Linked DNA regions of Homo sapiens: regions 1, 2, 3, 5 and 6 are each linked to region 4. The links come from fine-mapping of genetic effects on gene expression. A gene starts in region 4. Each other region holds a variant in brackets. All regions are shown on one strand. Distances are between the middles of the regions. Region 1 overlaps VPS13A (vacuolar protein sorting 13 homolog A). Region 2 overlaps VPS13A (vacuolar protein sorting 13 homolog A). Region 3 overlaps VPS13A (vacuolar protein sorting 13 homolog A). Region 4 holds the start of VPS13A (vacuolar protein sorting 13 homolog A). Region 5 overlaps VPS13A (vacuolar protein sorting 13 homolog A). Region 6 has its middle 62 kb from the start of VPS13A.

Evidence for each region. PIP is the estimated chance that this variant, and not a neighbour inherited with it, causes the effect.
Region 1: its variant is fine-mapped to the expression of VPS13A in whole blood (TOPMed, PIP above 0.99).
Region 2: its variant is fine-mapped to the expression of VPS13A in nasal epithelium (TOPMed, PIP 0.96).
Region 3: its variant is fine-mapped to the expression of VPS13A in whole blood (TOPMed, PIP above 0.99).
Region 5: its variant is fine-mapped to the expression of VPS13A in tibial nerve (GTEx, PIP 0.98).
Region 6: its variant is fine-mapped to the expression of VPS13A in whole blood (TOPMed, PIP 0.97).

What each region holds. Positions count from the first base shown.
Region 1 is chr9:77,360,504-77,365,503 of GRCh38, forward strand. VPS13A (vacuolar protein sorting 13 homolog A) reads left to right here. Exons shown (of 72, transcript NM_033305.3): 59 at 33-138; 60 at 4,957-5,000. Among named protein-coding and RNA genes, the nearest start is that of GNA14-AS1, 85 kb to the right of the region's middle. The variant C/G (reference allele first, on the strand shown) is at 2,522.
Region 2 is chr9:77,378,408-77,383,903 of GRCh38, forward strand. It overlaps VPS13A (vacuolar protein sorting 13 homolog A), which reads left to right. Exons shown (of 72, transcript NM_033305.3): 68 at 3,569-3,680. Among named protein-coding and RNA genes, the nearest start is that of GNA14-AS1, 66 kb to the right of the region's middle. The variant C/T (reference allele first, on the strand shown) is at 3,307.
Region 3 is chr9:77,208,643-77,214,138 of GRCh38, forward strand. It overlaps VPS13A (vacuolar protein sorting 13 homolog A), which reads left to right. Exons shown (of 72, transcript NM_033305.3): 6 at 781-890; 7 at 1,974-2,033; 8 at 4,327-4,386; 9 at 4,592-4,672. Among named protein-coding and RNA genes, the nearest start is that of VPS13A-AS1, 33 kb to the left of the region's middle. The variant A/C (reference allele first, on the strand shown) is at 2,483.
Region 4 is chr9:77,175,104-77,180,599 of GRCh38, forward strand. VPS13A (vacuolar protein sorting 13 homolog A) reads left to right here and starts at 2,431. Exons shown (of 72, transcript NM_033305.3): 1 at 2,431-2,701. The coding sequence starts at 2,602. VPS13A-AS1 (VPS13A antisense RNA 1) reads right to left here and starts at 2,814. Exons shown (of 2, transcript NR_026668.2): 1 at 2,524-2,814; 2 at 1,653-1,803. RefSeq lists silencers at 2,059-2,388, 2,150-2,444, 3,427-3,596 and an enhancer at 2,150-2,444.
Region 5 is chr9:77,234,740-77,240,235 of GRCh38, forward strand. It overlaps VPS13A (vacuolar protein sorting 13 homolog A), which reads left to right. Exons shown (of 72, transcript NM_033305.3): 18 at 3,263-3,452; 19 at 3,533-3,647. Among named protein-coding and RNA genes, the nearest start is that of VPS13A-AS1, 60 kb to the left of the region's middle. The variant T/C (reference allele first, on the strand shown) is at 2,790.
Region 6 is chr9:77,112,901-77,118,396 of GRCh38, forward strand. No RefSeq gene overlaps it. Among named protein-coding and RNA genes, the nearest start is that of VPS13A, 62 kb to the right of the region's middle. The variant T/A (reference allele first, on the strand shown) is at 2,953.

The DNA.
Region 1 (5,000 bases), 190 kb after region 4:
TTTTAAAAAATGTTTTCTACTTTGTAATACAGGTATTTCAAAGTATTGATTCAAGAAATGGATCTCAGGTTAGATCTTGGGTTTATCTATGCTTTAACAGACCTTATGACAGAAGCTGAGGTGACTGAAAATACAGAGGTAAGACTTAAAATAATAACATTTGATGGAAAGGATTAGGGAAAAGATATTATTATAAATTTTTAAAGGTATTAAAATGACTTTGTTGCATTTTAAAAATACAATTAAATAAATTTTATTACTCTCTTGTGGTACATACCTTTTTAGAAATCTTATTTTCTGATGATAGAAAATTAGCAAACAGGAGGAAAGGCTTGGGGTGAATAGCAGGGAGAAAAGGATAATTTGTCATGTTCACATCACTTTTTTCCTCTTTTATTTTCCTGGATTACTTTGGCTTTGCTTTCACTTTAATAATTTAGAAATTTAGGGTATGTCCAGGATATTTAATGGGAGAAAGGATAGGAAAATTAAAAGGTGGTATCATCTGGGTGACTGGAAGACCATAAAATCATAGTTATAAAGTGGGTCAGATATAGTCTGTTTTTCACTTGCCCTCATAGATTCATGGATGGAGAAAGAGCAAATTAGTAACAGTCTATTGAGGTATAGATCACATACCATACATTTCACCCATTTAAAAGATAGGGTTCAATGACTTTTAATGTATTCACAAAGTTGTACAATCATCATCACTCTCTAATTCCGGAACATTTTCATCATCCCCAAAAGGAACTGCCTGTGCAGCCACTGATACACTTTGTGTCTTTAGGTTTGCCTATTCTGAATATTTCATACAAATAGAATCATACACTGTGTAGTCTTTTGTGAAGGGCTTCTTTGACTTAGAATAATGCTTTCAAGGTGCATCTATGTTGTAGCATGTATCAGTACTTCATTCCTTTTTATGGTTAAGTGATATTCCATTATATGGATGGGCCACATTTTGTTTATCCATATATCTGTTAATGGACGTTTGGGTTGTTTACACATTTTGGCTTTTATGGATAATGTAATGAATACTGGTGTACAAGTTTTTATTGGACAAAAACTTTATTAAAAGTCTTAAACTATTTAAACTTAATCACCATGTGATTAAGCAATTCCAATCCTAGGTATATAGCCAAAAGAAATAAAATTTTATTAGAAGTGGAATTGCTCAATCACATAGTAACCTTATATTTAATCATTTGGGACTGTTAGGCAGTTGTGCAAAGTGCCTCCACCATTTTACATTCTTACCAGAGCATATGAGGGCTCTGATTTTTCCATATTATCCCCAACACTTGTTACTATCTGTCTTTGATTCTAGCAATCATAATGGGTGAATGTGAAATAGTTTGTCATTGTGGTTTTGACATGTAATTACCTGATGACTAATGATGTTGAGCATCTTTGATATGTTGATTATCCTTTAATATGTTAAGTAGTTAATTTGCATATCTTATGTGAAGAAATGTCCATTCAGATCCTTTGCTTATTATTTAATGAGTTATTTGTCTTTTTTCTTATAAAAGTTATTTGCATATTCTCGATACAGGTCTCTTATCAGATACATAATTTTCAAATATTTTCTCTCATTCTGTGTGTTGCTTTTTCACTTTCTTGATGTTGTCTATTGAAAATCAAAAGTTAAAGTTAATGAAGTTCAAATTATTTTTTATTTTGTTGCTCATGCTTTTGGTGTCATTTCTAAGAATCCTTAGCCAAATCCAAGGTCATGAATATCTTACGTTTTACGAATTTTAAAGATCTAGCTCTTATGATTAGGTCTTTGATCAATTTTTAGTTCATTTTTGTATATGATGTATAAGGATCCAAATTATTCTTTGGCATGTTGCTATCCAGTTGTCCTATTACCATTTCTTTAAAAGACTATTTGTTCTTTGAATGGTCTTGACACCCTAGTTGAAAATCAGTTAACAACACACATGTGATTTTATTCCGTCGATCTGTGCATCTGCCCTTGTGCATTGCACACTGTCTTAGTTATTGTTTTGTATTAAGTTTTGAAATTGGGACATATGTATCTTCCTACTTTGTCCTTCTTTTTCAAGATGGGTTTGGCTGTTCTGAGTCCTTTGAAATTTCATATGAATTTTAGAATCAACTTGTCAGGTTCTTCAAAGAAGTCAGCTGGACATCTGATAGAGACTGCATTGAATCTGTAAATCAATTTGGGAAGTATTGCCATCCTAACAGTATTAGGTCTTTCAGTCCTTGCACATGACATGTTTATCCATTTATGTAGATTTTTAATTTTTTTTAACAATGTTTTGTTGTTTTTCAGAGTGTAAGTTTTACACATTTTTCATTAAATTTATTCCTATGTATTATATTCTTCTTATAGTATTATGAATAAAATTGATTTTTTAATTCCATTTTTGGATTGTTCATTGCTACTGTATAAAAATGCAGTTGATTTTTTTATACTGATCTTGTATTTTGCACCCCTACTGAATTGTTAGCTCTATTTGTTGTTCCGTATATTCTTTTGGGATTT[C/G]TATACATAAGATCGTGTCATCTGAGAGGAGAGGTAGTTTTACTTCATTCTTTCTGATCTGAATGCCTTTGTTTCTTCTTCTTCCCTAGTTGTTGTGTCTAGAAATTGGTGACACATTAAACAGAAGTGCCAAGAGCAGACATTCTTCTTTTGCCTCTGATCTTGGAGGGTAAATTTTCAGTCTTTGAGTATGATATTGACCCTGGGTTTTTCCTAGACATCCTTTTTCAGGTTGAGGAAGTTCTTTTCTTAGTTGGTTGAGTGTTTTTAATCATGATTATATATTTTGTCATTCTTTTTCTGCATCTATGGAAATGATTGTACACTTTTTGGGTTTTGTTCTACTGATATGTTTTATTACATTAATTTTTTTTTTTTTATTTTTTTTTTTTTTTGAGACCTAGGCTCGCTCTGTCTCCCAGGCTGGAGTGCAATGCTGCAAAAGCAATCTCAGCTCACTACAACCTCCGCCTCGTGGGTTTGTGCAATTCTCGTTTTTCAGCCTCCCTCCCGAGTAGCTGGGATTACAGGCGTGTGCCAAAATGCCCAGCTAATTTTTGTAATTTTAGTAGAGACAGGGTTTCACCATGTTTCTGTGTTTTTTTGTTCTGACCTCAGGAAAACTCCTATTTGTCACTTTCTCTGATTTTCTCCTGCAAACTATTAGGTCTACAGGTTAGCCAGTATCTTCTGTAAATCAATGACTTTCCTTTTAGTTGTCTTTCACCACATCTGCTGTTTCTGAGAGCCCTTAGGCTCGAACTGCACTATATGTTATAAGTGAAATTAGTTCCTTTGGGAAGAGATTAATAGTTACCTGTTTTAAAACCTACTTTCCCCATCAGCAAAAATCCCTAAACCAGGCCTCTGAAGCTGGCGGTGGGAACAGTTGTGACACCCTTCTATTTGAGTAACACCCCAGTTTAGGAGCTGAGCACTATGTGTGGTGGGGTAAGAGGGGCAGTGGCCTGAGATGATCTCAGCTTGCCTTTGCTGGCATGGAACCACCACATTACAGGCCTGGGCAAGAGTGATCAGAACTCTAGTATTCTCAGTGGTACTGTACCCAAGGCAGAGCTTTTTTACCCTGCACAGAGGCTGGACAGAGAAAGGAAGCCCTGCCAAGTACGGTGGCTCACGCCTGTAATCCCAGCACTTTGGGAGGCCAAGGTGGGTAGATCACTTGAGGTCAGGAGTTCGAGACCACCCTGGCAACATAGTGAAACCCCATCTCTACTAAAAATACAAAAATTAGCCAGGCGTGTTGGCAGGTGCCTGTAATCCCAGCTACTCAGGAGGCTGAGGCAGGAGAATTGCTTGAACCCAGGAGGCACAAGTTGCAGTGAGCCGAGATCGCGCCACTGCACTCCAGCCTAGGTGACCAGAGCGAGACTCCGTCTCGAAAAAAACAAACAAACAAAAAAAAACCCATAAAGGAAGCCCCCGCCTCACAGTTGCACTCAACCATAACTTAACCTCAGCAGCAGGTAGCTGGGAACAGGATGAGAAATGCTGACGTCCTGTTCTTCCCAGGAAGGAAGTCCTCCAATTGAGGACTGGGCCAAGAAGGAGCTCTGTGTTCTTGGGTATACTAGTCTAGAGTAGAATTCTGGCTCATTAGTCTGGGAGAGGGGACAGAGGGAATGGCCTTTGTTAAAACACCACGGATTCGCTTTTCTTACCAAATTCTTTAGGTTTTCTTAAATAGATGTTTCTTCATTTGCTTATGACCTTAAAACCATTCCTAGAGGCCTTAAATTTGTTGTTGTTGTTGTTTAAATTTTATCAGTTTAGCTGGGGTGCTGGTTTGAAGAGCTTCCCACTGTCATTTCAGAAATTGATTTCTAAATATACTTTTTATAAGGCTATCATTTCTTATGTTTTTATGAATATGTTAAAATGTGAATCTTGGGGCTCATTTTTCAACACATAGAAGTTACTTCCGTCTGAGCATTTAAAGGAGAAGTATTGATGAATATCAAGAATGAAACCACCAATCAATTAATGCAAAATTGTTTTCAACACCTTCTTTATTTTATTATATTACTGATCTGTGTAGGATGCATTAAAGCAATTACAAGTAGACTACAAAATACAAGTTGACTGTATGATTATGTTTAAAGAAACAAATATACCCAAGAGAGTGTTGATGGTATGGATTAATGTCATTTTGGGATAAGATTTATAGTCACATGGAGAAAAGCTTAGTGTCTTTTAATGGTTTGGATAGAAATATAGAAGATAATGCTTGTTGGTTTGTCAGTGGCAGACAGAACTGTCCTATAGATAGAGATGTTACTTTCCCTTCTGAGGCAATCATAAGCAATGTTGAGTCTGGATCTTATAGAAGAGTTTTGGCAGTGTGTCTTCTATTTGCTTAAATATCTCATGCAGGTAGGTCCCTTTAGTTTTAATATTTTGTGTTCCTTTTATAGGTTGAGCTTTTTCATAAAGATATAGAAGCTTTCAAAGAAGAATA
Region 2 (5,496 bases), 200 kb after region 4:
TGTTCTAATTTGTTGATATATATTTATTGATCATAGTAAATATTTACTAGTATTCTCATATAATTATTTTTCCCTTATATAGTATTTATTCCTAGTATTCCCTTATAATTATTTTTTGTTTCCATAAGATTGGTAGTAGTGTTCCCTCTTTAATTCCTGTTATTCATAATTTGGGTCTTCTTTTTTTTCTTGGTCAGTTTAGTGATGGCGTGTCATTTTTGTTGTCCTTTTCAAAGAACCAGTTTTTAGTTTCATTGATTCTATTTTTTCTATTCTCTATTTCTTTTATCTCTGCTCTAATTTTTATTATTTTCTTCCTTCTGCTAGCTTTGGGATTAGTTTGCTTTTTCTACTTTCTCAACTTGTGAAGTTATATTATTGATTTCAGACCTTCTTTTTTAATGTAGACATTCACATCTATAAATTTCCCTCTGAGCACTGTCTTTGCTGCATCTTATAAGTTTTGGTGTGTTGTATTTTTGCTTTTATTTGTTTCAAAGTAGTGAATTTCTTTTGTGATTTTTTTCTTTGACATTTTGTTATTTATGCTTCTATGTTTTAATTTCCACACACTTGTAAATTTCATAAATTTCTCTTATTTACACATTTCTAGTTTTCTTCCATGTGGTCAGGTATCATACTTGTATATTTTCAGTCCTTTTTTTTTTTTTTTTTTTTTTTTGTGAGATAGAGTCTCACTCTTGTCACCCAGGCTGGAGCAGTGGCGTGATTTTGGCTCACTGCAACCTCTGCCTCCCAGGTTCAAGAGATTCCCCTGCCTCAGCCTCCTGAGTAGCTGGGATTACAGGCACACACCACCATACCCAGCTAATTTTTTTTTTTTTTTTTTGAGACAGAGTTTCACTCTTGTTGCCCAGGCTGGAGTGCAATGGCGCTATCTCAGCTCACCGCAACCTCCGCCTCCCAAGTTCAAGCTATTCTCCTGCCTCAGCCTCCCTAGTAACTGGGATTACAGGCATGTGCCACCACACCCGGCTAATTTTGTATTTTTAGTAGAGACAGGGTTTCTCCATGTTGGTCAGGCTGATCTCGAACTTCCGACCTCAGGTGATCTGCCCGCCTTGGCCTCCCGAAGTGCTGGGATTGCAGGAATGAGCCACCACGCCCGGCCATTTTTGTATTTTTAGTAGAGATGGGGTTTCACCATGTTGGCCAGGCTTGTCTTGAACTCCTGACCTCAAGTGATCTGACCACCTCGGCCTCGCAAAGTGCTGGGATTACAGGCATGAGCCACCACGCCTGGCCTATTTTCAGTAGTTTTATATTTACATTCAATGTTAGCCAAAAGGCCAAGAAGCAAACAGTAATTTTATATTATTGAGACATGTTTTATGACCTAATAGATAGCTAATACTGAATAATGTTCCGTTGCACTTGAGAAGAATATATATTCTGTTGTTGTTGGTTTGAACGTTCTATAGACATCTGTTGGGTCTAGTGGATTATAGTGTTATTCAAGTTCTCTTTTTTCCTTGCTGATCTTTTATCTAGTTGGTATCCATTTTTGAAAGTAGGTTGCTGAAATCTTCAACTATTATGGTGGTATTGCCTTTTTGTCTTTTAAATTCTTAGTTTTTGTTTTGTGTATTTGGGGCTTCTTTTATTAGCTGCTTATATGTTTATAATTTTTTATCTTTTTGATGGATTGACCCTTTTTTCCTTATAAAATGCCCTTCTTTGTGTCTAATAAGAATTTTTTTAAAGGCTGTTTTTTTCTGACATTAGCATGGCCACTTTAGCTTTCTTTTAGTTACTGTTCACTTTGCATATATTTTCTCCTTTTTAGTTGCAACCAGTTTGTGTCTTTGACTCTAAATCAGGTCTCCTGTGGATAGTATATTGTTAGATCATATTTTTTTTATCTATTCTGTTTTTATTTTTTTACTTATGTATTTATTTTTTGAGATGGAGTCTCGCTGTGTCGCCCAGGCTGGAGTGCAGTGGCATGATCTCGGCTCACTGCAACCTCCACCTCCCAGGTTCAAGTGATTCTTCTGCCTCAGCCTCCCAAGTACTGGGACTACATGCACATGCCACCACGCCCGGCTAATTTTTGTATTTTTAGTAGAGACAGGGTTTCACCATATTGGCCAGGCTGATCTCGAACTCCTGACCTCATGATCCGCCCGCCTCGGGCTCCCAAAGTGCTGGGATTACAGACATGAGCCACCACACCCGGCCCTATTCTGTTTTCAGTTGGAGAATTTATTCATATGTATATGCCCATGCATGTGTATACATTATGTTAGCGGTCCCCAGCCTTTTAGGCATCAAGGTCTGGTTTCATGGAAGACAATTTTTCCACAGACCAGACAGGAGGGATAATTTCAGGATGGAACTGTTCCACCTCAGATCATCAGGCTTTAGTTATATTCTCATAAGGAGTGTGCTACCTAGATCCCTTGCATGTGCAGTTGACAATAGGGTTCGCCTTCTTATGAGAATCTGATGCCGCTGCTGATATGACAGGAGGTGGAGCTCAGGCAGTGAAACTTGCTTGCCACTACTCACCTCCTGCTGCACGACTCAGTTCCTAACAGGCTATGGACCGGTACTGGTTCAAGTCCCATGGGTTGGGGACCTCTTAATAAATATTTGTTGAATATGTGATACTTGTTGAGTGAACAAATTGAGTGGTCACTTATGACCAAATAAGCAAAAATGTTAAATATAATACTACCATACACAATTTAGCCGTATGTGGTATGTGTTTTTTGGTTTTTTGTTTGTTTTTAGACAGGGTCTCACTCTGGCATCCTGATTGGAGTGCAGTGGCATGGGGCTCAAACTATCCTCCCACCTCAGCCTTCTGAGTGTCTGGGACTTCTGCTGCATACCACCATGTCTGACTAGTTTTTTTATTTTTTTGTAGAGCAGTGTATGCTGCCCAGGATTGGGGTATGTGTTTACAGTAATACACATCAAGCCCAGTAAGAATGTGAGGACTGTGAGAGTATTTGAATATTAGAAAACTATATAATGTGATTTATAACATTAATAGATTAAGGAAAATATACCATGTGATCAAAACAATGCCAGAAAAGAAATTCTTATTTAAAATTCATTGCCTATTTAAGATTTTCAAAAACAGTAACAAAAAAGAACTGTTGGTAAACTAAAAGTAGCAATGAACTTTCTTGACTTGTTAAGGGGTGCTTTAAAAAAAAAAAGTTGCTGATAACTATACTTCACAGAAAACTCTTAGAAGCTTTCCGTAGGGTCAGGAATGAGACAAGGATGCTTGCAATCCCTTTTTGTTTATAGCATTATACTAAAGAAACTAGA[C/T]AACGTAATAGGAAAAGAAAAAGCAACAATTGCTAATATTGTGATTATTATCACAAAGAAAGTTCTAGAGACTTAAACTTCTCTATAGTTCTGTATTTTTCTAGAGAACTTACACTGTTTATGTTACAAAAACAATTTAAAATTAGAGAATGTTGTAATATTTTTAATCTGAAATAAGATTGTTTTTAGTAATTGCATTTTATAGTTTATTTACAAGTTTTTGAATAATTTTTAAAATAAAGTTATATTTTTTTTCCTCTAGAGCTACAGAGACTTCTGAAGTGGAGAGTCTGCGACCTCCTCGGTTCTTCAATGAAGATGGAGTTATCAGACCGTACAGGTTGAGGGATGGGACTGGAAATCAAATGTTACAGGTAAATTAAGAGCTATCTTATAAATTAAGATTAATTTAGTCAAGTTAGATTTTTTTTAAGTAGCCATTTAATATATATTAAATTATTTGGGCTTTTATCTATTTTGCTTAATTCCACTTATAAGTTTCTTATATTTACTTAGATTTTAAAGTACATTTATTTACTATAAGATTTTTTTTTCTTTTTTACAGGCATCAAAAAGTTTGATATGAAAAGTTAATGCATGACTTTGCAAGTGAAAGCCAACAGTAGATTTTAGTCTTAAAATTTACAAACTACGTACAGCTGTTTCAGTATTTTGAATACAAAGAAAACCTTTTGTATTGGTAACTTTTAATAGGAATTTTAATGAATCTGGTTTTTTTATAGGGTGTTCTTAGTTCTGCACTGGATTTGCTAGATTTGTTGGAAGCCTTTGTACCTTATGTATCCTCGTCATTGGTGGTACTTACTTAACCAATTAAACCATTTCTGTTGTGGGGTTATTAAACCACTGGTAGCTTTTATACCAGATATATAATCCTTATATCCAATTACACATGAAGAAGGAAAAGCAAAACTCAGGAACACTGCTATTGTGAATTACTCTTGGATTCTTGTGCTTTGCCTTTGAAAATGCTTAAATGGCCATGACCCTCTTCCTGCTTTATTCTAGTGTAGTCTTTATAAAACTTGTGGGATTTGATAAGCAGTTCACATGCAAACCAGTATCTTTTAATAATACAAAGTAGCATCTGGAACAATAGACAGTTTGAAGTTAGAATCTGCTTAGACAACTTTCTTACTTGGTAAATTCGACTTTTTAAAACCTGGATTATGCTGTAGGTAACTAGTAATCATATATAGGCTATACCAGTGTCATGTTGTTTCTGTGGTTTAGAGGTGGAATACTAAATTAAATCATTTGTTTGAAAACAAACAAGGAATCATTATGTTATGTAGGCTTGCAGATACTCATGGTAGCAATAAACTGTTGGAATATGAAGCTTCCTTTATGGCTTTAATATTTTAAATATTGTGATATTTAATGTGATCAGAGTAAAGATTTAAACTTCAGTATTTTACCTATTGCAGGGCATATAGTATTGCATAAAATATACTTCTAACTCTTTCTCTGAGGCTTCTAATATACAAAAATGTAACCATAGAGTTAATATGCAATATTTAGTTAAGTGATTTTATACTGTATTTAAAATGTTTTTGAAGCATCAAAATCATTGTATATTGGGATAGAACTGGTAATCTATTAAGAGGTTGTGCTCTAATGGACAGATTGTGCAGTCTCTACAATGACAGTGTATCGTTCTTTGGAAGATAGTAAATTTGCAGAAGTCACCCATGGCTGATACAGTCAAAACATGTATTTCTACCCAATACCTGCCTTCCCTTGTTAGAACGCATTTAACAAGTTACTAACATTTTACTAGACTAAAAATCAAATATAGTACGAAGTAAGGATGAGTGTTGAGGAGAGTTTAGGAATATATCCTCATTATAAGTGAGCACGTTATGATACCCACAAGGAAGCCATGAGATACCAATAATTTCTCATGGTTGATAATTTGATTTTAGTGAAGCTTCTCATTGTTTTCTGAAGCTTTAAACTTTGAGATGTAAAAACATGACTTTTGACTGTGTACTTTTAAAGATACATATTTATTTTTAATAGGTCAGTCTCATCATTAATCACTAAAAGAGCTATTTAAATGACTAAAAACCACAGCACTTGTCAGCCATTACTTGTTTTTCAGCAAGCATTTACACAGTATTAGCTGAAATATTTGTAGGGATTCACCAAGTACCTTGGGATGTTGCA
Region 3 (5,496 bases), 34 kb after region 4:
TGGTTCAAACGATTCTCCTGCCTCAGCCTCCCAAGTAGCTGGGACTACAGGCATGGACCACCATACCTGCCTAATTTTTATATTTTTAATAGAGACGGGGTTTCGCCATAGTGGCCAGGTTGGTCTAAAACTCCTGACCTCAGATGATCTGCCCACCTTGGCCTCCCAGAGTGCTGGGATTACAGGTGTGAGCCACCTTGCCCCTCCAATTCTTGATTCTTTCTATTTCTTTGGAAAGTAATGGAACTTGAGATAGTTAATGCTGTTTTCTGAACATGAAATAGTTGATGAACTTCTTTCATCCTTGTTCAAAAGAAGAAAGAAGATCTTATTTCCTATTTTGTATTTACTGGGGGAGGAGGATATTCAACTGTTTTACACATCTATACACAGGCAACTTAATGGTGGTATCACTAATTTTGAGAGAGATTTCTGCTTTGCTGCTGTTAGTGGATTTTCTCATTTAAGTCTATTGTAATTCTTACCCAATAATCTTCATTTTTAAATATATTTTTGTACTCAGGCATAGGTTAACAGAAATTATAAAATTTAATGCCAGTAAATTCTACATGGTCTGCTTTAGTCTCATGGCACAATAAACTAGCTTTTGAAAAATGTTTACTTGCTTTTGAAAGACTTTTGGAAAGCAAGCTATTAGTGTTCTATTTACATATATATGTATATTTCAGCAAGGCAACGTAAGCATGTTACTTCAGTATGTGGATATTTATAGAGTATATTTTTCATTCAATTTTAAAAAAGGAATATTTGCAATTGTAGAACAACATCTGCCGGAAAAACAGGACACTTTTGCAGAAAAATTAGTTACACAGATCATAAAAAATCTTCAGGTGAAAATTTCCAGTATCCATATTCGTTATGAAGATGATGTAAGTATTTTAATATGTGATATTTGTTTTTATATTTATATGTAAGTTATTTTACTATTTAATGACACCTACTTTTTAATGGCCAATCTGTTAAATCCCAAAAGGTTACAGAGCTAAAGATGATGTGATCCTTCTTTTCTATAATTATAGTTGTAATTTGCAGTCCTTAGTGTTGAGTGCTTGATTTTACACTTTCCCAAAATGTTCAGACATTAGATCATGAAGGAAATGCCTTGGGAATTATGAATTTAGCAGTTATGTATTTTTAAAATACTTTAAAGTATGCTATATTTACCTCCTGGATGGAGTACTGGTCTAGCAATTAGTGGAGCTAGCCTTAAATAATTCCTTGATCCTGAATAGGTCATTTGTTTTCTCTTAACCAGATAATTATTTGCTTTATAATCCTATTTTGTTAGTCTTTTTTAATAATTTTTTTTGTAAACTGGAAAACATGCAGTATAATATTCCTGTGTAACACGAATACATTAATAATTAGTATTCTAATTTGTTTTAGGAAAAATATAGGAATGAAAGTTTTTCTGGAAAGTAATAAAATGTTTCTGAATGTTTGAAATAAGTTACTTCCCAAAAAGTTATCCCTCCCTCCCTTCCTCCCCCCACCTCCCTCTCTCTCTCTCTCTCTCTCTCTTTCTCTTTCTCTCTTTCTTTCTCTTCTCCTCTTCTCTCCCCTCCCCTCCCCTTGCCTCCCCTTCCCAAGACAAGGCCTCACACTGTCGCCAGGCTGGAGTGCAGTTGCCCGATCATGACTCATTGCAACCTTGACATTCCTTGCTCAAGTGATCCTCCCACCTCACCCCCACCCACCCACCCTGCAGTAGCTGGGACTACAGTTGCACCCCACCAGGCCTGGCTAATTTTCTTAACATTTTTTTTTGTAGAGGCAGGATCTCACTGTGTTACCCAGGCTGGTCTCCAGAGCTCAAGCAGTCCTCCTGCCTTGGCCTTCCAGAGTGCTGGGATTACAGATGGGAGCCGCTGCACATTGACAGTTTTTTCTATAAAGTGGATTTTATCCAACTACTAAAAATCTGAATAAATTTTACTTTCTTTCCTCTTTAGATCACAAATCGGGACAAACCGCTGTCATTTGGTATTTCCCTTCAAAATCTGAGCATGCAGGTATTTTGTTTATAAAAGAATCTTAACCATATTTAATGTGCAATATAGTCTATTAAACTGCTACTATTTGTATATGCCAGCATCAGAAATAGGTGTCTATGTAGAACGGGTGCACAAAGGGTCTTCATTGGATTGGAATCGAGGGTATGTAGATTCACATTTCAAAAAATGGTTGAAAATCAAATTCAGAAATATGAGGTCCTATTATTATTGGTAATTATGATGTTAGATGCTTTTGCTTACTTTAAGAAATCCATTTCCAAGTTTGTAATGAGTAAGTACCAAATACAAGTAATAAATGTTCATATCTGAAACTTCGATAAGCCTTGAAAAACAAAAATCTTCAGTTTTTCTCAATATCATTATTAATATTGTAGCATAGTGTTTTCCTGTTTAATTTTTGAAATTGAGGAATTTTAAAAATATAAGAACATGTAGAGAATTTTGAA[A/C]CATATGCTTGCCTCCAGAATGGATGGCTGTTAAATTAAGAGCCTATTAAAATAGCCTATTTGCTTAAAGTCTTAAATATTTTTATAGGAATAAGCTGTTTTGGATAAAGTTTGAATCCCTTTTGTTTTCTACTTCCACCCACCCGTCCTTCCCCAGAGATAAGTATCCTAAATTTTAAAACTTTTATATAATATATCTATTAAAAATGTAGGATTATAAAAGTTTACGCGTTTTATATGACTCTTTTATGAGTTCCTTTTTGCACTTTCCAGTGTTGTTGACATTTATCTGTGTTACCACATGTAACAAAATTCATTCAGTTTAACTGCTGTGTATTTCATTGCATGATTTTATTTGTTGTATCTATTGGGTTTTGTGTAAGATTTCTTTTTAATTTTATTATTATTTTTAAATTGGGCAGCCTCCCAAGCCAGAGCAGGCTCAGAGAGACTCCACAGTTTCTTTTTAAAATGTGGCCCCACTGCAACGAAAAAAGAAAAAATGCCCTCCAAAAAGTTACTCAAATACTCTCATTAAGTTGAAAAATAAGAATGGAGAATTAGCCATTGGATTGGGCAATGTGAAGATCTTTGGTAACCGTGATAACAGTAGTTACTAATCATCACCTTTGGAAACTTGTCTGCCAGCCTAGACCTGTTCAGTTAGAAACTCTAGGATTTGGTTGCAGCAATCTGTGTTTTACAAAGCCCTCTAGGTCAGGGTTCCTGGGCCACAGAACAGGAGGTAAGGCCTGGGAGTGAGCATTACCGCCTGAGCTCTGTCAGATCAGAGGTGGCATTCGATTCTCGTAGGATCCTAGCGAACCTTATTGTGAACTGCGCATCTCAGGGATCTAGGTTGTGCCCCTGATGGAAAAGTTATCTCCTATGAAACTGGTCGTTGGTGCCAAAAAGGTTGGGGACCACTGCTCTAGGTGATCCTAATGCATGCTAAACTTTGAGAGCTACTATTCTAATTATCCATTCAGTTCGTCTCCACATAGAAACGAAAACCATCTTTCTGAAATAAAGATCTGATCACTTTATTCCTCTCAGTGGCTTTTCATTGCTCTTAGTTTTATCCTTAAACAACTTATAAACCCTTTTTAAACCGACCCCAGGCAATATACCTGGTTTTACTTTTTTTCTCTGTCTGTTTTGCATTATATTCTCCTGCATACTGAGCTACTTCAGTTGCCTGAATGTGCCATATATTTGTGTACTTTTGGGCTCTGCCTGTTGTGAATCATATTCCCTGTCGACCTTAGAATCAATAATTTTTAGTTACATGTTATATATTAGGTTATATATAACATCTCTTTATCCATCACACCCCTGAATTGGATGCTCCTGCCATGCCCTCTCAATGAAATGAGAGGGCATTTTTTTTGTAGAGACAAGGTCTCACTTTTTGTTGCCCAAATTTGTCTCAAACTCCTGGCCTCAAGCAATCCTCCCAACTCAGCCTTCCAAAGTGTTGGGATTACAGGTGTGAGCCACTGCACCCAATGATACCTGCAAATCTAAATAGCTCCTAGAACATTCTTTTATAAGTTAAATGAGTTATGAGTTTTAGAAGTTAAATGAGTATTTAACTTCTGCTGTGGCACTTACCTGTTGGAAGTTGCCTGTTTCTTTGTTTGCTTTTCTGACCCGCAATGAGCTCCTTCCTTGAAAGCAGACACTTTACTGTGGTCAGTTAGTATTTTTTGATGGAGTGATATGTCTTTAAAGGCATTTTCATGAAAGGGACATTGGTCTAGGGTATGGTAGATAATGATTTATTACTCTGCTGTTTCAAATGGAATGACCTTTTTACTGCCATTGTTTTTTTTCCTTTTCAGACAACTGATCAATACTGGGTTCCATGTTTACATGATGAAACTGAGAAACTGGTTCGTAAGGTAAATAAATACTGTGTTTGTCAACTCATGGACTTAAGAGAATTTTGGAAAGCCAAATGATAATATATAGATAAGGATGTATGTGAATTTTGCTTATTTGTTTAACTCTGTGATATGGCTCACTTAATTATTTGAGACTTCTGAAAATAGTGTATGATAAAAATTCTTCAAAGAAAATGAGACATCTAATAAATTTTATTTTCAGTTAATCCGATTGGATAACCTGTTTGCCTATTGGAATGTGAAGTCTCAGATGTTTTATCTTAGTGATTATGATAACTCCTTGGTAAGTAAATTTTTTCTGTATGTATTTGTTGGTATCATATTTTGCATGAGGTTTAATTCATTGTCATTTATCTAATATACTGTAGTCAGTATTTTTTCCTAGGCACAATCTATTAGCAGAATTTACAGATACAGGTGAAGATGTGTGTAACTATACACAAACATGAATACATACCCCCATATCTTTTTTTTTTTTTTTTTGAGACAAGGTCTTGCTCTGTTGCCCAGGCTGAAATGCAGTGGCACGATTATAGCTCACTGCAGCTTCTAACTCTTGGGCTCAAGCAATCATCCTTCCTGCCTCAGCCTCTTGAGTAGCGAGGACTATAGGCACACGCCACCATGCCCAGCTAATTTTTAAATTTTTTTGTAGAGACAAGGTCTCACTTTTTGTTGCCCAAATTTGTCTCAAACTCCTGGCCTCAAGCAATCCTCCCAACTCAGCCTTCCAAAGTGTTGGGATTACAGGTGTGAGCCACTGCACCCAATGATACCTGCAAATCTAAATAGCTCCTAGAACATTCTTTTATAAGATTAGTTTGGTGAGATGTTGTTTAACTACTTTAATATTTTGCCATAGCTAAGTTCTAAGTTTGAATTGGTTTTTAAAATTGCTTTTAAACATTTTTCTTTTGCAGATAATAGGATTTTTTAGGATAAAGACATATTGGCATGAATATGGCTAGGCGTGGTGGCTCACACCTGTAATCCCAGCACTTTGGGAGGCCGAGGCGGGTGGATCACTTGAGGTCAAGAGTTCAAGACCAGCATAGCCAACATGTTAAAACCCTGTCTCTACTAAAAATACAAAAATTAGCCAGGCAC
Region 4 (5,496 bases):
TCAAGGGATCCTCTCACCCTTGGAGTAGCTGGGACTACAGGCATGTGCTACCATGCCAGGCTCCAAATAACTTTTTATTGTTTAAAATTTTTAAAGCATAAACAGATGGAGCACAGGGCTCTGTGAAGTTAGATCAGTAAAAGTCCCATACCTATAAAACGGCCATCTTCTACACTTGTTCCTCCAGGACATCTTCTGCTTCAACAGCTTTGTGGTCTGCTTCAACAGCTTTGTTATCTGGCCATCTAGCCTGCTACCACAATGCCCATGGGGAATGATAAGGACAAGCAGCCCACCAATGACATTTACTTGTGGACAAAAGAATTAAGATTAGGAGAAAAAAAAATTCCAAGATTACTACCAGTACACCAAAACTTTAAAGACGAAGAGCTGTGGCATGGAAGGTATACATAAAACTGCAAGTCCTACTTGCAAAGTTAGAGATTTATTGTAAAGTTAGATGATATTGCAGTTTGGGGTCATTCAGATGCTCTCCCCCTCTTTTGTTTTTCCATTTGATCAAACAATGAAGTATAGCATTTTAATTGTGATCTAGAGAAAGAATAACATACACTGACATACTTCCTAATTTGAAACTCGAGTTTTTATGGTAGTCATTGGGCTTATTTTTCAAGGTACAACAGAAATTTGGTTTAATGGTTTAATGAGCATACCTTTTACATGATGATGTTAATATATTTTTGCTTACAAACTTCCTTAGATGGATTAAGCAATGCAAAGACTGAATGCAAAATGTTGTCTTTTAGTATTTACAAAGCATGTTCATATACATCTAACACTAGATAAGAATTCGGTTACAATATGCATCCACTTATTTCTAACTCTTCCTCAGCAGAATTTTTTTTCATTGCTTTATGCTTATACCTCTAACTTTTCAGCAACATCCCTTCCCCTTCCTCACTTCCACAAAATTTTCCTAGATCGTAGAAAACTAATATGAAAACGTTTGCAAGATACTTAAGATGGATTTTTGGAGTTCTGGAAATTCTTGTAACTTTGAATTTGCAGCGCTAGATATAACAGCGGAATTTTGCAGCTACTGTGTATCTGGCTTCTTATTAATAGTGCAATGGCAAAATGCCTCATTATGTAGAGCTCTTCCCCTTCCTAGGCATTTTAGCCTCTATTCGTTTCTCCGTGCAGGTATTCTGAAGCAGACTGTTAGCTGAATGAGAGAGAAGCAGGTGGGGTGGTAGCCAATCAGAAGGGCCAAGTTCCAGTTCTTCCACAGAACATTGGTTGTATGACCTTGCACACATCCCTAACACTTCAGCTTCATTATATTTAAGACTAGGAGGTTGGAGACCTCATAAAGGTCCTTCAAATATAAAATTATATGAAAAACATTCATAAACTCAGGTAAAAACTTACAGTTTTTGTCAGGCATTCTACTTGCAAAGGCACACCCTAAACATTTAATTTTGAAAAGTCGGTGACTATGCACAAAAAGTAGTAAAATGACACAGGAATTAATAGAAATCCATCATTATTCATTTAACGTGTAAAGAGAAAACGCTCAATGTACACTTTTTCGGTCCTGCAGATGATTAATTACAGTTCTCTAAACCTCACATTTAGCATCTCTGTGACCTCAGGCCTTTGGGATTACTTCTAAGTAAGACCAAACAGGTCGAAAGATCTGTAATTGTAATTTATTTTAGGTCAGTGGTTCGGTGGAGGCATAGGGGTCAAGGGTCCAGCACTCCCAGTATTTCTTGGAGGGTGTTCAGCAGTTTCCAGACCGGCTGACTCCAACTCTTATCTGCAGGGAAGCGTGTTACTCTTTGGAATGAAAGACAGCTCCGTATAAATGACTTGACCAAAAATGGGTGCTCATCTCAGATGCAGGGCAGGGACTATGTAACTCCATCCTCGACTCGCAGCAGGAAGTTAACTCCTCCTGAGAGCCAGGCGGTCGGAGGACCAGGCGGGGAGGTTACAGGCACCAAGACACCCAGGCTGGCTGGACCCTCCCACCCTGTAATGATGAGGGGAGATGCTCCCTGGGACAGCCCCCTTGAAGCTTCTGGCGACGGGGCTGGGATCCGCCCACCCTTACTCAGGGGCGAGCCCTGTCATACGCGTGGAAGCGGCCACCACCTTCTAGGGGGAGGGGCGTTCCCGTCGGGCGTAACCGCCCCGCCCTGGGGGGCCGCTGGGGACGCTGATCTGCAGGAGGGGGCGGGGTCGGAAAAAATCCGGTAGCTCCAGACCGGTGTCCCGTTGCCAGGCGATGGGGAGGAGGCGGGGCCGACAGGAAAGAGGAGCCGGGCTCGGCGCGAAAAGGGCACCCTCCAGAGCCGCGGCCGCGCAGCCGCCTTTCCTCCCTCTCAGGGCTGCGCGCCCAGGTCTGCGCCGCGCTCCGCCTCCAGCCGCGCGCAGACTTGCGCACGCGTCGTGAGAGCGACCGCCTCCGTCTCTCGCTGGGCTCGCTAGGGCTGCGCGTTGGGCCAGCGGGGGCGCCGCAGCTGAAGCCGCCCCGGAGCCGGTGAACCGAATTACCTCGAGGGAGGGGCGTGGGGAAGGCGGCGGGAGGAGGAGCGCACGGGCCGGCTGCCGTGCCCACCACGGCTGAGGAACATGGTTTTCGAGTCGGTGGTCGTGGACGTGTTGAACCGGTTCTTGGGGGACTATGTGGTGGACTTGGACACGTCCCAGCTCTCTCTGGGCATCTGGAAAGGTAAGGAGGCCGCCGCCGCCGCTCCCCGGCCTCTCGTGCTTCCCGGCCGTCTCGCTGCCCGAGCGGCGTCCTGCGTTCTCGGGGCTTCGAGCACCTTGCTCGCCGGGTGCAGCCACCTGCCGCCGCCCGCCTGTGGGTCAAGTTACGTAAAGCCGGGCGGCAGTTCCCTGGCCTCCGCCCTCGAGTTGTTTATATTTTGGGGGAAAGGAGAGGGTCATGAGTGCGGGATGAAAAGGTCTATATTTTCCGAGCGGAGCGGACTTGCCGTGGGCTCCGTGGGTCTGGCGTTCAAGTCCCGGCGAGGGGCCGTTCTCTACCCCTGGCCCCGCACGGTCCGGCTTTAGCCGCGCGGGGCGAGGAGGCGAGACGACGCCTTCCTGGGCTGGGTCCCATCCCTGTCCTTTGCCCCCCTGGGTTTATGACGAAGGCCCCAGAAATCCCCCGCGTGTTGCATGCTGCCTCGCACGTGAAGGCAGGGCGCTGTGACCGGGGACGCCCGCTTCCTTGCTTCCCCAGCCTCAATTCCTGGCTTCACCCGTGGTGCTTTCTGCTCTCCCCCTTCCGGCCCTAGGACCCGGACGCCGGCTCTCTCTCGCCTGGGTTCGGCGGATAACAAAAAGGAAACTCAAGTGCAAAGTAACTCAAACAGTTGCTTGTGTGGTTGCAGTTAACAGCCTGACCTAGGAATGTGTAACATTTTCAAGACTTTAGGATATGTGGGTCAGAGTGAATTGCCGAATTTTAAAGAAAAACCAGGGCGTGCGGTGCAACGTCTCAGACCTGCAAAAGACCGGGCTGAACAGGGCCCTACGCTGCCTAGGTGGTGAAGGACCGAGCTTTCCTTGTGTCCGTTTAGTGTGGTATTCTGCCTTAGTGAGAGCCTCATTTTTAGTGTTTCCATCTGTTTTTGCATTATGCGCTTGTTTATTTTAAACACCCGCTAGAAATTAGACTCCTTTGTGAAATGAATTTCCCAGGCCAAAGTGAGGGTTAATTTTGTGTGTGAAGTGTGTGTGTTTAAATATATATTTAAAGTAATTTATTCTTGTCTGTGCACACACTTCCAGTCTTCTTCTAAAATACTTACCTTGACTCTTCTCGTTTATGAGATAATGTAAACAGGTAGTTTAGTTTGATTTTAAAGAATGTTACTACCGTGGGGACCTAGTATCATGATGGAGAGTGAGTGGACTACAAAAGCTAGGGATATAGTGATAGCTGCTCAGCCTGTTTGATTAGTACAAGAAACTTGCAGTCTGTTTATGCTGCTTCTTAGTTGCAAAGTGAAAATAAAATTTGTCTCCCATGTACCTCAGAAGGAAGCCTTAAGAATACTTGAGGTGAACTTTGATCTGTAGTGGAGTCTTGCTTCCACATTCAGGGTGGAGGTTTGTCTAGAGTGTGATTAATCAACTTATTTATTTGTTTAAAATTTACATGCAGTAAAATTCACTCTTGTGATACAGTTCTGTCTTGACAAATGCTAAGAGGCATGTATGCACCACCACAATAATGGCACATAAAAGGTTCATCAAGCCTCCCGAATTCTCTCAGCTGCTCCTTTGCAGTTGATCTCACCCCGCCACCACGCCCGGCTAATTTTTAGTAGAGAGGGGGTTTTGCAATGTTGGCCAGGCTGGTCTCAAACTCCTGACCTCAAGTAATCCGCCTGCCTCTGCCTCCCAAAGTGCTGGGATTACAGGCGTGAGCCACTGCGCCCGCCTGACTGTAAGTATTTATCTGTTTGCTGGTTGAAGAATATTTCAGTTTTTGGAGGTTATAAATAAAGCCGTCATAAACATTCACGTACGGGTGTTTGTGTGAACATAATTGTTATTTCTCTTGGATAAATACCTAAGAGTGGTTTTAAATTGGGTTGTACGTTTTTTTTTTTTTTTTGAGATTTATTTCATATACCATAAATTTCACTCTTTTAAAATGTACAATTCAGTGTTTTTTAGTATAGTCACAAAATTGTACAACCATCACCACTCTCTCATTCCGGAATATTTCAGCACCCCAAAATTAAATCGTATGTCCATTAGGAGTGACTCCCAATTTCCTCCCTTCTCACTACTCCACCTCTGGCAACCACTAATCTTTCTGTCTTTATGGATTTGGTAATTCTGGACATTTCATTTAAATGGAATTATATGATATGTGGCCTTTTGTTTCTGGCTTCTTTAACCTAATGTATTTTCAAGGTTCCTCCATGTTGAAGGATGTATGACTATTTCATTTGCTCTTAGGGTTGAATAATATTCCATTATATTCATAGACCACAATTTATTTATCTATACTCACCAGTTGCTGGATGTTTAGATTATTCCTAAACATCCACCTTTTGGATATTATGAATAATGCCACTGAACATTCATGTACAAGTTTTTTTGTGGATGTATGTTTTAAATTCTCTTGGATATATACCTAGAAGTGGAATTGCTGGGTCATATGCTGACTTTGTGTAACCTTTTGAGGAACAGCCAAACTCTTTTTCCAGAGTGTTTGTTTTCTTATGGTTGAGTTTTGAGAGTTCTTTAAATATTAAGGATACAATTTCTTCATCAGATATGTAATTTGAAAATACTTTCTCAGTCTTTTCCCATTTTGTCTTTTGCAGAGCATACATTTTTGATTTTGGGAAAAGCCCAGTTTATAAAACATTTCTTTTATGAATCATGGCTTTTGGTATTCATATCTAAGAAATCTTTTCCCAACCCAAAGTCAAAGATGTTCTCCTGTGTTTTCTTAAGGAAGTTTTGTAGTTTTAGGTTTTGGATTTCTTTTTGTATAAG
Region 5 (5,496 bases), 60 kb after region 4:
TTCCTCAGTACTGTCTTCTTAGTGTTTGTTAATTTTTTGGGGGATATATTTTTATTTCTTCCTCATTTCTTTTTCCAAACATATTTTAGTCATTTTGTTGAGGGCTACTATATAGGGATTACAATTAACAGTCCAAATTTAAGACAGTCAAATTTGAATTGACACTAACTTAACTTTAATAGTGTATAAAAACTCTACTCTTATGCAGCTCCATTCTTCATCTTTACGTTATCATTTTCACAAATTACTGCTTTACATACTTGTGTTCATTAGTCTAGGTTTATATTTGTTTTTATGTGTTTGTCTTTAAATCATAGAGGAATTAAAAAGAGGAGTTAAAAACCAAAAATGCAATATTACTGGCTTTCTTATTTGCTTATGTAGTTACAATTACAACAGTTCTTTATTTATTTGTATGGCTGCAAATTACTATCTAATATCCTGTCATTGCAGTCTTTAGGACTTCCTTTAACCTTTCTTGTAGGGCAGGTCTACTAATGACAGACAGACTCAGTTTTTGTTCATCTGGAAATGTGTTCATTTTTCCTTCATTTTAGAAGGATAGTTTTGTCATATATAGATTTCTTGGTTGACATTTTTTTTCATTTAGTGCTTTAAGTACATGATCTTGCTGCCTTTTGGACTGCATGGTTTCTGAGGAGAAATTAGCTGTTAATCTATTACATATCTTGTTATGTGATGAGTTGCTTCTCTCTTGCTGCTTTCAAGATTTTCCTTGTTTTAGCTTTTGACAGTTGGATTATAATATGTTGCTGTGTGAGTCTCTGAGTTTATCCTAATTGGAGGTCTTTGAGCTTCTTGGATGTATAAATTTGTGTTCTTTATCAAATTTGAGAAGTTTTTGGCCATTATTTCTCCCAGTATTTTTAATGTCTTTTTCTTTTTCTCATGTCCTTCGGAGAGTCCCGTAGTGCATATGTTGTTCCACTTGATGGTCTCCCACTTTAGGCACTGTTCATTGTTCTTCATTATTCTTTATGCTCCACAGACTCAATAATTTCAGTTGTCCTGTATTCAAGTTTGATGATTCTTTCTTTGGGCTGCTTAGATCCTCTGTGAAACCTCTCTGCAGATGGTTCCCAAATCATGATTGTTCAGCTTATGATTTTTTTGATTTTAGAATGGTGCGAAAGTGATCCATATTTAGTAGAAATCTTACTTTGAGTATCCATACAACCTTTGTTTTTCACTTTTCAGTACAGTACTGAATAAATTACATAAGCTATTTAACATTTTATTGTAAAATAGGCCTTGTGTTAGATGATTTTTCCCAACGTAGACTAATATAACTATTCTGAGTACATTTAGGGTAGGCTAGGCTAGGCTATGATGCTTGGTAGGCTAGGTGTGTCAAATGCATTTTAAACTTATGACATATTCAACTTACAATGATTTTATTGGGACATAACCCCATTATAAGTCAAGGAACATCTGTAGTGAAGTTTTCATATTGGCTGTTGTACTTTTCACCTTCAAAATTTCTGTTTGGTTCTTTTTAATAATTTCTGTCGATTTATATTCTGTGCTCAAATGTTATTTTCCTGGTTTTCTTTAGTCTTTGAGTGTAAGCTTATTTAACATGATGGCTTAGTGAACATAATGCTAGTCTTCCCTTTTCTGTGTAAGCTTTGTACATTTTTGTTTAAAACTTGATGTTTTGAGTGGTATAATGTGGTAACTGTGGAAATTAGATGTCCCCCCTCTCCATGGTTAGTTGTTGTTGATTGTTGAAGGATGTAGTTTTCCATTTGTTTACCTACTGTAGTGGGTAGAATTGTATCATCCAAAACATTGTCAATTTCTAATTCCCAGTACCTGCAAATATAGCCTTATTTGGAAATAGCCTTTGCAGATGTAATCAAGTTAAAATGAGTTCATGCTGTATTAGTGTTTGCTCTAATTGAATGATGTGTGCTCTTCAAAGGAAAGAGAAATTTGAACACAGACTCAGAAAATAAGACAGACTAGAGAAGACAATTTGCAGACAGACATAAAGAGGAGAATGCCATGTGACGATATCTTCTTAGCTGCGCCCATATTAATGTAGATTTTCTGTAACGTGGTGTGGGGATTAGAGGTGGGAAATGATCATAGCTCAGATGCCACAGGCTCTCCCTGTTCTTATCAAGTTTTAGTAGATTTTTTTGTTTGTTTTGAGATGGAATGCCACTCTGTCGCCAGGCTGGAGTGCAGTGGCACAATCTCAGCTCACTCCACCTCCTGAGTTCCAGAGATTCTCCTGCCTCAGGCTCCCGAGTAGCTGGGATTACAGGCATGTACCACCACACCCAGCTAATTTTTGTATTTTTAGTAAAGACAGAGTTTCACCATGTTGGCCAGGATGGTCTCGATCTCTTGACCTCGTGATCCGCCTGCCTCAGCCTCCCAAAGTGCTGGGATTACAGGCGTGAGCCACCGAGCCCAGCCTAGATTTTTTTGAATAAAAGTTTTTCTGTTTGCTGTATGCCCTTAGATTGATTTCCAGAGATTTTATAATTTTCACCAGTTCTTTCCCTGTTTGGTTTGCTGGGGAGAAGAGTTGCTGAGCTCCTCACATAGTCATTCTCGAAGTCCTGCCTCATCCTTGGTTTTTAAATGTTTATTAAATTGTTTTATTTTTTTGAGACAGAGTCTCACTCTGTCACCCAAGCTGGAGGGCAGTGGCATGATCTCGGCTCACTGCAACCTCCACCTCCCTGGTTCAAGCGATTTTCCTGCCTCAGCCTCCCGAGTAGCTGGGACTACAGGCTCATGCCCCCACACCTGGC[T/C]AACTTTTGTATTTTTAGTTGAGACAGGGTTTCACCACGTTGGCCAGTTTGGTCTCGAACTCTTGACCTCAAGTTATCCACCTGTCTTGACCTCCCAAAATGCTGGGATTACGGGTGTGAGCCACATGTCTGGCCTTTAAATGTTTATTTTTATTTTTAGAAGAAAACATGTTTATAGACTTGTGTTAAATATGCAAAACTTTTCAGTTTTACATTAAGCATTGTAGATTTACTGTCATTTTAATTTTAGCTTATCATAACTTTTTTACATATAAGTCAACACAAATAGGATTCTTTGTGAATTAATCTATGTCAATTTAGAGGAATCATTGTATGTCTTCTTTGATGGGAATGGACTGGAGTCAGAAATGCAAAGTGAAGTTGTCTTCATTAATTTTTTAAATCATTTTCAATTTTTAAAATCCTTCACAATTTTACTGATCGCTGACTTTTTTCTTTTTTTTTTAATGCAGATTTGAAACTAAAATAGATTCATTTCATATTACTGGCTTACCAGATAATTCAGAAAAACCCCGCCTCCTGTCTTCATTGGATGATGCAATGTCACTTTTCCAAATTACATTTGAGATAAATCCATTAGATGAAACTGTTTCTCAGAGGTGTATCATAGAAGCTGAACCTTTAGAAATCATATATGATGCAGTAAGCATTTTTTTAAATTACTAAGTTTTAATATAATTTAGTTTGCTTTGAGTTTGTGTTAATGATGTTTATTTTAACAGAGGACAGTGAATAGTATAGTGGAATTCTTCAGACCTCCAAAAGAGGTACATCTAGCACAGCTCACTGCAGCAACTTTGACAAAACTGGAAGAATTTCGCAGTAAGACAGCAACAGGTAAATGCCAATATTAATGTTGGTGAATTAAATACTGTATCCTATATTAAACTTTTATTTATGGTAGAATGTTTTTAGTAAAGTTTATTTTAAATTTATTATATTTCTAGACTGGTTTTAGTTTAACAGAAACTAATTTAGTACTTTTATGTTTAAAGGCAGATAAAACCATAATCATTTTTTACACTCAGAAAGTTCATACCTAGTAACCACATTTAAGTTAGTTGCAAAATTTTGCTTAGGATACTTGGACCTCTATTTATGACAAAAACTGGCCTCTCGTTTTCCTTTCTTAGAATGCGTTCCAGATTTTGATATATCAGCCTCAGGGAAAAAAGTTCTATCCTTTTTTATTCTCTAGGAGAGTTTGAATAAGGTCGGGTACGATTTCTTCCTTAAATATTTGGCAGAGCTTAATGGTAAAACCACTTGGTTTTGGAGATTTCTTTGTGGGAAAGTTTAAGATTACAGATTGAACTTTTTAATTAAATAGTTGACCATAGAGATTATCTGTATGATTTTAATGCTTTGTAATTGGTTGGGACTTGTTTTCTAGCTCAATGTATGATATTAAAAAAAATGTTCCTCATATGCTGAAAAGGCTGTCTTTTCATATCTATACCTATTCATTAGGTATGGATTGTTAATCCTTTACTTCAAATTTTTTGTATCCTTACTGGATTTTTTTTTTCCCCTTTTGTCACCTTGTTCTAACAGTTATTAAGAGAAATACATGAAAAATGCCTCATTATCAATGTAGATTTTTCTATTTCTAATAGATCTGTCAGTTTGTTTAAAAAAATAAATTTGGCTGGGCGCGGTGGCTCACACCTTTGATCCCAGCACTTTGGGAAGCCGAGGCGGGTGGATCACCTGAGGTCAGAGTTTGAGACCAGCCTGGCCAACATGGCAAAATCATAATAGAGACGGGGTTTTAATAGAGACCAGGTTTCACCAGCCTGGCGACAGAGCAACACCCTGCCACACACACCAAAAGTAATAATAATAAAAATTAAAAAAAAAATAAATTTTAAGACTGTCATTAAGTACATGCAGGAGTAAATTATTTTTCCTCCTATAAACCACATCTTTAATGCTTTAATTTTTTTCCCTTTGTACTTTTTTATTTTATTTTATTTTTGATCTGATGTCAGTATGAAGTACAAAGTTTCTTTTCGTTAGAATTTACCTGGTATATATTTTTTCTTATATTTTTACTTTTTCCCTGTGTTTTCAGATGTGTCATGTCAACAACATGTAATAGGATTTTTTCCAATCTAGATTTATGGTCCTTATTTTTTATTTATATCTACTTTTTGCATTTAATTAATTTATTTAGGCTTATGTCTAACATCCTATTTTGTGCTTTTGAATTTGGTTTTCCTTGTTTTATTTTTCTTGCCTTCCTTTGGATAAATTCTAGGATACCTTTCTTCCCCCTTCCCTACAATCTACTATTGGGAAGTTAAATATTCTCTATCTCTTTTTATTTTATAAATTACAGTATACATTTTTGTAAAAATATAAATTTAATGAAAAATTTTATATTCTCCTAGTCATTATATGGACTTTAGTACTCTTGAACTTTATATACCATCCCCATATACTATTTTTTTTACTTAAAAATACTTTATTGTACTGTATGTATATAGTTCATGGTAGTTTACAATTACTTGTGCATTTACTACCTTCTTTGCTCTTCATTTCTCTTATAGCTTACACTTTTTATTTGATTTTATTTTCTTTCTGTTGGAAGTTCATTTTTTTTTTTTTTCAACCTCTGCCTCCTGGGTTCAAGCGATTCTCCTGCCTCAGCCTCCCGAGTAGCTGGGATTACAGGCACCCACCA
Region 6 (5,496 bases), 62 kb before region 4:
TCGGTTGTTAGTTGTCTTAGTGGAATAATTCTGGAACTTTCTGTGTATATGTAAGATAGAGCAAATGAGTAAATGAATTGGTTCTTTGGTGAACCAAGTCCCTTGCTGTGGGGAAGGGGAGATACACTTGTGGAATAGAGGAATGTGAGGGACCCTGTGATGTTGGATTTGAATTGCAGTATCAGTATAAATTGAGTCCCAGGAGCAATTAGCATACCTAGAGCCCAGAATGTGGCTTCTACATACCTTTCTCACAAAAAGGAACCAGGGTTCTTTGTGGTTAGTTCCAGGTGTGAGGTGGGAAAATTACAGAAGGAACCTGGAATATCTTAAGCCTGAAAGGAAGGAAGTGCACTAAAACTCAAGGGAACACAGGAACCAATTGGCCAAATATGGGACAATTTGAGCATCAAAGCCGGTCGTTTAAAAATGAATCTTTTAGTTTATTATAATAAGCAAAAAGAAGAGATGGACAGTGAAGAAATTCTTTAGAGAAAGTGCCAGCTAACAAAAGTAGAAAGAAATACAGAATTAGCAAACCACCACCATACCACCACTACATAATGATTGAGTCAGGCAAGGATCATCTACGAATTCTGAAAGCAATGTGGTGAAAGGTCATCTTGAAATGGGATATCCACACAGTCTGAAAGACTACAGGGTCCTCACTAATTTTAGAGAAAATGTATGTCTTCACAACAGAGAAATGTTGTGCACACTACCTTAATCGAATGATCAAACTTGACATTATCAATAATGAGACAACCTGACGCTATGTGCCTCTCTTATGAAGCAATGGAAAGTACCTATGTTGTCAGCCATGTAATATTCTCTTACCAAAAATGCTTAACCCTATACAAATTAGTTAGGCAGAAGGAATAAGATCTAGTGTTCAGTAGCACAGTAGGGTCATTAAAGTTACAATAATTTATTGTATACTTCAAAATAACTAGAAGAGAAGATTTGGAATGTTCCCAACACAAAGAAATGATAAATGTTTGAGGTGATGGATATCTCAATTACCTGTATTTGATCATTACACATTGTATGATTGTATCAAAATACCATATGTACCCCGTAACTAAATACAACTATTATGTGTCCATACAAATTAAAAGTTAAAAACACATTAAAAATACTTAACCCTAATATAATTTTGTGAGGATATAATTTAACAAATCTAAATGATGTGACATTCTACAAGACAACTGCTCTGAGCTCCTCAAAAATATCAGTAACATGAAAGTAAAAAAAAACCAGAGGCTTATTGTACTGGATTTCAACAAGCTTGAAGAAACATGGCAACTAAATAATCCTCTGCATAATCCTTGATTGTACTCTGGATTTTAAAACAAATCTATACAAATACATGATTTGAGTAATTGGTGGAATTTGAATATTAATTACATTTTGGATAATATTATTGTGTCTGCTGGGCACAGTGGCTCACACCTGTAATCTCAACACTTTGAGAAGCTGAGGAGGATTACTTGAACCCAGGAGTTTGAGACCAGCCTGGGCAACATAGTGAGACCTCACCTCTATAAAAAAAAATTATCTGGGAACGATGGCATGCACCTGTGGTCCTAGCTACTCCAGAGGCTGGGATGGGAGATGGGAGGATCGCTTGAACCTGGGCAGTTGAGGCTGTAGTGAGCCATAATTGCAGCATTGCATTCCAGCCTGGGTGACACAGCAAGATCCTGTCTCATAAAAAAAAAAGAAAAAAAAAGAATATTATTGTGTCAATCTTAAGTATCTTGGGAGTGATAATGGCATTGCGACTGTGAAGAATACATACTGAAGAATTTAAAGGTGAAGCATCATGATATCAGCAAGTTACTTTCAAATGATTCAGCACAACAGAGAGGGCAGAGGCACAAATGTGGCACAATGTTAACAACTGATGAATAAGGGTATGGAGGCATTGTGGTTGTATGTTGCTGCATACCAAACTACCCCAAAGGTTAGTGGCTTAAAAAAAAACTCATTATATTTTACCATTTTATGGATCAGGAATTTGGGAGGACTTTCACTGGATGATGGTTCTGCTCTAAGTGGCATTACCTACAGTCACTTGGTGACTGGCTATTCACACAGCTGATGGACAACTGGTTCAGAGAATCCAAAACATGCCTGGTGCTTTGGTGGAGATGGCTGGATTGAGCTTTCCCTCTCTGGGTAGTCTTGGGGTCTCTCATCAGCCTCTTCACCAGGGTAGTGGAACTTAACATGGAGGCTCAGGGCTTCAGGAAACCCCCTAAAAAAGCCAGTCTTCTTGAGAGCTAGGTCCAGAACTGTCACAGAGTTCTGAGTTAGATTTCAGAGCAATCTAAAATCTTCTGCCATTTTAGATTGCTCAAGAAGTCACAGTAGTTCAGATCCAAGAAAAAAAAGGGACCCCACATCTCAATGAGAAGAGTGTAAAATAACTTATGACCATCTCTACTCCACCACAATAGGTTTCTATAGTTTTGAACGTTTTCAGAATGAGGGGTGGGGGAAGTTTTAATTAGTGTGTTTGGCATTGTTTTGCAAGTATATCCGTACCCTAAACTCCTAATTGTTTTTTATTTTGATAGTTCCGAGTTCCTCTCCAAAAAGTATATACCAGTTTGCCTAGCAAAAGTGCATGGGAGTCACTGTGTTCTTCATTATTCGAAATAGTTTTAAAGTATACCTATACTGTGACATATCCCTCATCAAAAAGTGGAGTCTAATTCTTCTTCCATTCATTGTGGGCCACACTTAGTAGCTTCTAATGAATAGGATACGGTGGGAGTGATGATGTGTGATTTGCAAGGTGAGATCCTAAAACGAGGTCCAGCTTCCCCCTGAATCCTTGTCTGTTGGGACATGCACTTTGGGAGCCCTGAACTGACAGCTAAGAACCCTGGCTACTAGAGTGGCCAACTTTTTTGAGGGCCAACGTGGACACAACTATACTGAATT[T/A]AAAAAAAAAACCCAAATGTAATAATCTAATATGTAATGAATAAGTATACTCAAATGTGTTATTACTTTAACATAAAATATGAAAAATGGTATTTATTTGAAATTATATGTTCTGTACTACTTACTTTTATGTTAAATAAATGCTATTATTTAAACAAAACAACAATAAGCCTAGATAGCAGTGGCGGTTAGAAGTGATTAATAGCAGGATTAAATAAGCAATATGTGTGAGAAAATATAGCAATATTTTTTGATGTTTCTGTCTTCTGATACAGCAATTTATTTGAACTCTTTTTAAATGCTTTATTGGACTTTTTAATATTTCAGGTTATATTTTTATAAATTCTTTTTTTTTTTTTTTTTTGAGATGGAATCTTGCTCTGTCTCTCAGGCTGGAGTGCAGTGGCATGGTCTCTGCTCACTGCAACCTCCACCTTCTGGGTTCAAGCGAGTCTCCTGCCTCAGCCTCCCACGTAGCTGGGATTACATGCTTGAGTCACCATGCCTAGCTAATTTTTGTATTTTTAGTAGAAATAGGGTTTCCCCATGTTGGCCAGGTTGGTCTCAAATTCCTGACCTCAGGTGATCCGCCTGCCTCAGCCTCCCAAAGTGCTGGGATTACAGGAGTGAGCCACCACGCCTGGTCCTTTTTTTTTCTTTTATGTAGTACTAAAACTGAATACAGGCAAAAGTAAGATTCAGTTTGACTTGCAGTTCTGCTTTTATCAAACCCATATTACACTGATTCCTGGTGTCAGGTCAATGTGATGTCAATTAAGCTAGCTATCCTCTCAACAAAAATGCCTATGTTCCTTTGCACATGAAATACTCAGGATATTACTTACTGGCAACAGCAGAATTTGGACCTGTGGTGCTCTAAAAATGCCCGTCTGTTCTGTATCCACAGGCTTGTTCTGGTACACCAGCTCATCATTAAGCAGGTGCTTTGCATCTATAACTTCATCGTTATAGGCTATCCATGTCTAAAATGTCCATGATTTTCAAACACTCACATTAAATGTCATGATTAATTAAGTCTCTCTCAGGGAAAATTTTTGAACTTGTAAAATTGAAAGTAGATTTGACATCAACCTAAAAAGCGTTTACACGGCAAAGGAAACAATCAACAAAATGAAAAGGTAACCTGCCAAATGGGAGAAAATATTTGAAAACCATATATCTGACAAGGGGTTAATGTAAAAAAATATATCAGGAGGCCGGGTGCAGTGGCTAATGCCTGTAATCCCAACACTTGGGAGGCCAAGGCGGGCAGATCACCTGAGGTCAGGACTTCCAGACCAGCCTGACCAACAAGGTGAAACCCCGTCTCTACTAAAAATACAAAAATTAACCAGTCGTGGTGGCGGGCGCCTGTAATCCCAGCTACTTGGGAGGTTGAGGCAGGAGAATCACTTGAACCCAGGAGGCAGAGGATGCAGCGAGCCAAAATCATGCCATTGCATTCCAGCCTGGGCAACAAGAGCAAAACTCCATCTAAATAAAATAAAATAAAATAAAATAAAATAAAATAAAATAAATATATCAGGATAGCACACAATTCAATAGCAAAAAAACCCAAATAACACAATTTAAAAATGGTCAAATGACTTGAATAGACATTTTTCCACAGAAGATATACAAACGGCCAACAGGTATATGAAAGGGTACTCGACATCACTAATCATCAGGGAAATGCAAATCAAAACCATAACAGGTTATCACCTCACACCTGTTAGGATGGCTAGTATCAAATATAAAAGAGATAAGTGTTGGAGAGGGTCTGGAGAGAAAAAGAGCCCTTATACACTATTGGCAGGAATGTAAATTGGTACAGCCATTATAGAAAACGGTATGGCAGTTTCTCAAAAAATTAAAAATAGAACTACCTTATGATCCAGCAACCCCACTTCTGGGTATATATCCAAAGGAAAGGAAGTCAGTACCTCAAGGAGACATCTGCATCCTCATGTTCATTGCAACATTACTCATAGTAGCCAGCATATGGAGACAACATAAGCACTCATCAGTGGATGAATGGATGAAGAAAACGTGGCATATACACACAATGGAATATTATTTAGCCAAAAAAAAGAAGAAAGCCTTGCCTTTTGTGACAACAGGGATAAACCTAGAGGACATTATGCTAAGTGAAATAAGCCAGACACAGAAAGATAAATACTGTGTGATCTCACTTATATGTTGAATCTAAAAAAACCAAACACAGAAACAGAGGGTACAACAGTGGTTGCCAGGCAGTAGGTGGTGGGGGAAATGGGAAGATGTTGATCAAAGGGTACAAACTTTCAGTTATAAGATGAACAGGTTCTGGGAACCTAATATACAGCATGGGTGAGGGTGTGTTAATTAATTTGATTGTGATAATAATTACAAAAATGTATACACATATCAAGTTATCATGTTATAAACCTTAAATATAGCTATAATATTTTTCAATTAAATATTTTTAAATAAAAAAAGAAAGTAGATGCCGAGCAACTTGAAGTTTTAGTAAAGAAATGTAAAAGATTCTGTTTTTTCTGGTGG